Regions from separate parts of the Homo sapiens genome. Here region 1 is reported to be linked to region 2. The links are microRNA targets in miRTarBase. Many come from high-throughput screens and were not tested one by one. Region 2 holds a microRNA gene; the other region holds the end of a gene's coding sequence.

What was found. The annotated mature microRNA hsa-miR-5591-3p reads AUACCCAUAGCUUAGCUCCCA and lies in region 2 at 2,338-2,358, opposite strand. An mRNA with a match to its seed (bases 2 to 7 or 8) in the 3' UTR can be bound and repressed. Matches are read on the target gene's strand: a 7mer-m8 pairs with bases 2 to 8, a 7mer-A1 pairs with bases 2 to 7 and ends in A, and an 8mer does both.
Region 1: the mRNA of TBX18 is a reported target of hsa-miR-5591-3p. The part of its 3' UTR that is shown has no 7-base or 8-base seed match.

Annotation. Positions count from the first base shown.
Region 1 is chr6:84,733,512-84,736,933 of GRCh38, reverse strand. It overlaps TBX18 (T-box transcription factor 18), which reads left to right. Exons shown (of 8, transcript NM_001080508.3): 8 at 1-3,422. The coding sequence ends at 249. Among named protein-coding and RNA genes, the nearest start is that of TBX18, 29 kb to the left of the region's middle.
Region 2 is chr4:39,410,890-39,414,311 of GRCh38, reverse strand. MIR5591 (microRNA 5591) reads right to left here and starts at 2,402; the gene lies at 2,338-2,402. The region is part of intron 1 of KLB (klotho beta); the gene reads right to left.

The DNA.
Region 1 (3,422 bases), not on the chromosome of region 2:
CCCTGTGCACTATATGGATATAACTTCTCCACATCCCCCAAACTGGCTGCCAGTCCTGAGAAAATTGTTTCTTCCCAAGGAAGTTTCTTGGGGTCCTCACCGAGTGGGACCATGACGGATCGGCAGATGTTGCCCCCTGTGGAAGGAGTGCACCTGCTTAGCAGTGGGGGTCAGCAGAGTTTCTTTGACTCTAGGACCCTAGGAAGCTTAACTCTGTCATCATCTCAAGTATCTGCACATATGGTCTGATGAAGCCTTTAAGTTAAATGACATTTGGATCTGTCTAACATATTTTCTTTTTCTTTTTTAAAAGCTATGTGGAAAGAAACTCTCTGTGGTTTATAAAATGTACATATAATAGAAAATGAAGGCTCACTGGGTTTTTTGACTTTATCATGGTGAGATTGTAATTATCTATGGTATATATGTATGCTGTATATACATAGCACATGGAGTATCACGGCCCCTATTGTTCCCCTGTTTCATCCAGTTGCACGGAGTATTGGCATGCGTGTAGTATGTTTAAGCAAAGTTCTCAGACTCTTTTAAAAACAAGATGGTAAACTTAAAACTTGGCAATTATACTATCCAGAAGAACACTTATAACTTAATTTATCAGAAAAATGCTCTAAACGGTTTCATACTTGATGTATTGATAACCAGCAGTAACCAGCATGTAGAGTCTTGTGATTTCTGTTATTCTTGGACACAGTGTGAGAATCTAAAATACAAAAGCCAGTTGAAGTCTTAGTGTTAGTCCTGAGGTATTTGTAATCATGAAGGATCAGCTTTTTCATTCCTGCTTATTATTTACCACACATACTATATGACCTTGGGTCTATAAAAAAATCATAACCCATAATAATTGTTATTTTCTTAAGGAAGGTAAAGGAGAGGCTTGTGATTTTTTTTTTTACACTTTCCATTGGGCACATAAGAGGTTCTTATTCATCTGTAGAGAACAAATTTCCAGTATTTTCGATTTTTTGCTTATTTTATATATCAAATAGACCATTAAAGAATGTTCTATAAACATTTTTAAATTCCAATTTTCACCAGGGGAGGAATATGTGATATGAGTGGAATGGCAAAAGGAAAATAAATCCACCTCAAATTCATTGATTCCAATGAGAAATGTCTATCTTTTAAATCAAGAGTAATACTATTGTTAACTATACCTTATGTTTTTGTATAGTTTGTTTTTAAATTTAGAATATTTTTTCCATCTTGCTCTGAGCTTCCTGACCGATAGTATATAAGTAAAAAAAATGCATTTATGCTACTTATTTATATCTTGTAATTCCTACACATTGAACCCTTTTCCCCTTCTTAACCTTGTCCGTCTGCCTGAGTCTTTCCCAAAACAGATAGTTCCTAGGCCTGTATGGTGTTAAATAACACGGTGAGGAATTTCAGTAGGTTATCTCCAGCAATCTGTCTTTTGGGAGCTATAGTGCAAAGGCCAAAGCCCATTACTATAAAGACCCTCTTGGAGGACTAAGAAGGAAGATACTAATTATGATAAAGGAACTATAAAACTTTTAACCTCAACAGAATTTGTAATGTCAGAACTGGAGAAATTAAAATCAGTATTAAATTTTTTAATTCCTAAAATAATATATGCATGGTTGAAGAGTTAAAAACAAGTAACTTTGAGAGCACAGTATGAGATAAATAAAAAAGGCTAAGAATACATGATGAGGCACATTCCCCTTCTGAGGAGAAAGCGAAATAACATGTCTGTGCATTGACCCATTCATTACATTTCATGTATCTTAAGCAAAAGAGCATGATTTTCTCTCATTGCTAAAAAGAGTTGCTTTAACTCATCCCTGGATTTGGTGGGGAAAGGGTACAACTCCTGATTTGCTGTTTCACTTTGAAACAACACAATTTGTTAGATACTTAGGGAGATATACTGTTGAATTTGCACAGGATGTGACTCTGTTTATACATATTAACAAATTTCCTTTTGGATTCCTTAGCAGTTCATCAAATTAGTATTAAATTTTTAAATTTAAAACTAGCATGAAGGGACATGAAATATTTGCAGTAGGTGGATCTATGTAAGATGTTTGGGTATGGCATTAATAGCTTGACAAAGATTTGGGGAAAGGTGTTAAGAATGAGTCCATCTCAGCCAATAGTGCTTGGTGTATAATTCAAGAACAGAGAGTTTTCCATCTTGAAAAAACATGGAAAGTAATGCTCTATACCCATATGTATTAATAAGAGCATTTTCCTTCTTGCCGTTGATCATTTCAGATGATACCACAATATGAGTATAATTTTTTATTAATCTTTTTTCTGGTAAAATTTTAGCAATATTGTACAAATGCTTTTTTTAGGTTTTACTGTAAATATTAATCACCACGTCACTTCAGAGACTAGCCTTTTATTGCTGAATTAAATGACATGCATACATTGATAATTATATATCTGTATTTTATTAAAAAGTACTTAAAATTATATTAAAATATGTTATTAAACCCTTTTATGATTTTGGAGGGTAATCATTTTAATGTCTAAAAATATTGATCCAAGAATAAGCACACACATGCACACCCCAAACGCAAATTCTGTACCTCTCAAATACATGGCAGAAAGAAATGGGCCTGCTGTTCATGTTTCATGTGTTAAATGTAATTTCTTGGTGTGTTGACCATGTCATTGAAGGTGAAGGCCCTGACAAATGTTGAACACATGAAAATTTGAATGTGAGAGGAAAGGGATGGGGTGGTATGTTTTGTTTTGGGTCCAGGGGAGAAAGGCAAGGTTACAAGAATGAGTGGCTTGCACCACTGACTAGTGATGACAGATTACTTCTATGCCCCTTGACTAGTAAACATTCCAAGGGACATCGCGATGGGGTGAGGTTGCTGCTATCAAGACCAGTCACATTTTGAAAATTAACACTTGCTTCCTTACAAGCTGCCTTCCAGAGGTCAACAGCTTTTCACAAGTGAGGCACCCAGTTGCTGACCCTTGATTTCTGGAATGTAAGGGGTCAGGAATCCTTGGTGGCCCCCAGAGAAGGTTGGGGCACAGTGTAACCTATATAAGGAAGGATCATACTCACTCTTTACATCAATTAGCAAAATTTTGAGGAAAAAGAATCTCACTTTTAAAATGTAAATAGCTCTTCATTACCCCTCCAGACTTAATCCTACCAGTAACTCACACCTTAGTGTGAAATTAATAAACAGCAGCTTTGGAGATAGCTGGAGGTTTGACTTAGAGGAAAAAGTAATTTTTGTAGCAGGACAATTCTGGGAAGATTTGTATGGGAAGGAGAAGGTGCAAGAAGAGAGATCCCTAACTAAACTCTGCAGTGTCCCATGAAGTCCTGGTGCAGAGCATTAAAAATAATCATTTCATAAACTTCTTTCAGGAACCTTGGTAGAGGTGGTGGATGCTACCTA
Region 2 (3,422 bases):
TTTTTTTCTAAAAACAGTATAGGCTGTACATTAATTTTGAGTTTCTGTATGCAACTTACAGATCTGGTGAAGATCTCCTTGAGGCAATTGTGTAAAATAATCATTTTTATGCCCCTCATACTGGTTACATGTCAATGTCCTTGTTCTTTGTGCTTCATGTCTTTAACCAGTTGTCTACTATAGAATAAGTCAGTGGTTTTCAAAGGTGGAGTGAGGGGGAGGAATTTTGACTTCCTGGGGACATTTGGCAAGGTCTGGAGACATTTTTGATTGTCACAACACTGAAAATGGGGGAGCTACTGTCATCTAGTGAGTAGAGTTTAGATGCTGCTGAACTCCTCCATTGCACAGGACAGCCTACCACAGCAAAGAATTATCTGACCCCAAATGTCAATAGTGACCAGGTTTGAGAAATCTTTGTACTATGTAAACAGTATTTATCTATGAAAGATAACATTTTCCCCCTAACCCAATGTGACTAGTAAAAGACAAAGATTTTTAAAGTCATGAAATGGTCAAAACTGTCATGAAAGCTGGCAGTATTTTTTGTTTTATTTTATTTTATTTTATTTATTTTTTTTTTTTCCTGAGACAGGTTTTTGCTGTGTCACCCAGGCTGGAGTGCAGTGGCACAATCATAGCTCCTTGCAGCCTTGACCTCCCGGGCTTAAGTGATCTTCCCACCTCATCCTCCCAAGTAGCTGGGACTACAGGTATGTGCCACCACTCTCAGCTGATTTTTTATTTTTTGTAGAGACAAGGTTTGTCTTGTCTCTACAAAACTATGTTGCTCAGGTTAGTCTTGAACTCCTGGGCTCAAGGGATCTTCTTCCCTCGGTTTCCCAAAGTGCTAGGATTACAGGCAGGAGCAACTCTGCCCCGCTTTGGCAATATTTAGTGGAGTAATAAACAGAATGAGTTATTGTCTCATGAGCAAATTCACCTTCCCAAACCTCTGTGCATGTTTACTCAGAGACTCTCAAATGTTCCATTCTAAAAGGGAAATGTACAAATTTAAATTATTACATGTATTTATTGATTTAAAAATAGAATGAAAACAGACATTACTGCCTTTACTAATGTGAACCCTTGGGGCTTTGCTGCATAGGCCAAATACATTTCTGGGATTGAAAAAACTAAACTTGGGAGAGAGAAATCTTTCCTCTACAAAGGAGAAGATGACACAACCCGAGGAAGAAATGGACGTGAGAGGCTGAAATAAAGGGCCTTCCTGGTCACTGAGCCCATTCATCCCTGTGGTCTGGTTACTGAGCCAGGAAATTGCCCCTTTTTGCTTTAGCCAATTTGAATTAGATTTCTGTAACTTGCCACCAAAAAAGTCCTGACTAATATACCACCCGATTAATATCAGTAATATTTCGACAGTTTGCAATAATGCAATGAAATATGAAGATTGAACTTGAGATTAGTTTTTGATTACAGTATTTAAGACAGAAATCCTAAACCATTCATTTAACCAACATTTACACCTAATATGTACAAATATTCTGTGCTAGGTGCTGAGAACATAAAGGCAAATTTAAAAATTGTCTCTCCTTTGAAAGAACTCTCAGTCTAGCTGGGGAGATGGAAAAGTATCATGTCGTATGAGTGCTATGCTAGAAACAAGCCCATCTTATGGGAGCCAGCAGAAGGGGCACTTAAATCCTAAAGGGGCAAGAATGACTTGGAGGCAGTGACCATCACGAAGTAAAGAGGGCATTTGAGCTAGACAGAGTGGGATAGTTGAGGCTGGGTGGAGAGAAATAGTAAGGAGAGACTGAGACACTGGCAGTAGTGTGTTATGATCGAATATGAAGTGCAAGAGGATGGGAGAGTGGCCAGGAAGGAGGCTGGGAACTGTATCTCAAAGGTCTTGGTGAAAAATTGAGACTTTATCCCCAAAGCTTGGGGGGGCCACTAATGGATTTTACACAGGGGAGCAATATCACGCATATTCAAAATATCACACTGTAAGATGAGGATAATAGTTACCTGGCAAGATTGTTGTAAAGAGTATAGATAATATTTATTTATTTATGTCCTTTTGGAATGTAAATGTTCATAATATTTCTCTTTTTAAAAATATTTTTAAAATTTCAATAGTTTTGGGGTACAAGTGGTTTTTGGTTACACGGATGAATTGTATAACGGTGAAGTCTGAGATTTTAGTGTACTCATCACCAGAGGAGTATACATTGTATCCAATATGCAGTTTTTTTATCCCTTACTCCTCTCCCAGCTTCCCTGTTCTGAGTCTCCAAAGTTGATTATATCCTTCTGTATGTAGGTATATATCATTCTGTATATATAGTCCATTGTATCATTCTTATATAGTGGGAGCTAAGCTATGGGTATGCAGATGCATACATAAGCTCAGTATACCCATAGCTTAGCTCCCACTATATGAGAGAACATATGGCATTTGGTTTTCCATTCCTGAGTTACTTCACTTAGAATACATAGATATTATTTCTTTTTTCTTTAAATAGAGAAGGGGGTCTTGCTATGTTGCCCAGGTTGGTCTCAAACTCATAGGCTCTGGGATTACAGGTATGAGCCACCATGCCAGGCCTAGAGATGATATTTAAAGTGATGATTACCGTGCTTAAAAATGGCCAAGCCAGGGCCAGGAGCAGTGGCTCACACCTGTAATCCCAGCTACTCGGGAGGCTGAGGCGGGAGAATCGCTTGAATCCGGGAGGCGGAGGTTGCAGTGAGCTGAGATCGAGCCACTGCACGCCAGCCTGGGTGACAGAGTGAGACTCTGTCTTAAAAAAAAAAAAATGGCCAAGCCAAAAAATACATCCTCATTCTATTTCAAATGCTGTTAAAAACAGCTTTGACGGGAGACTGAGGCAGGAGAATGGCGTGAACCTGGGAGGCGGAGCTTGCAGTGAGCCGAGATAGCGCCACTGCACTCCAGCCTGGGCGACAGAGCAAGACTCCGTCTCAAAAAAAAAAAAAAAAAAAATCAAAACAAAACAAAACAAAACAAAAAAAACCTTAGTTTTGAGGCCGGGCGCTGTGGGTCGGGAGTTCCAGACCAGCCTGACCAACATGGAGAAACCCCGTCTCTACTAAAAGTACAAAAAATTACCCAGGCGTGGTGGCACTTGCCTGTAATCCCAGCGACTCGGGAGGCTGAGGCTCCCGCTTGAACCCGGGAGGCGGAGGTTGCAGTGAGCCAAGATTGTGCCACTGCACTCCAGGCTGGGCAACAAGAACGAAAACTCCGTCTCAAAACAAAACAAAACAAAAACAAAAACTTAGAGTTGGTTCATCCATTAGTAGGTGTGATTATGGAAAATTTTTACCTGAGTCTTAGACCCGCATTAAGGTACTCCCTACATCTGCAATAAAGTGGAATCTAAATTGCAAGTCAGCCTTGGGACCCTCTGGACCATTCAGGTTTCCTCCAA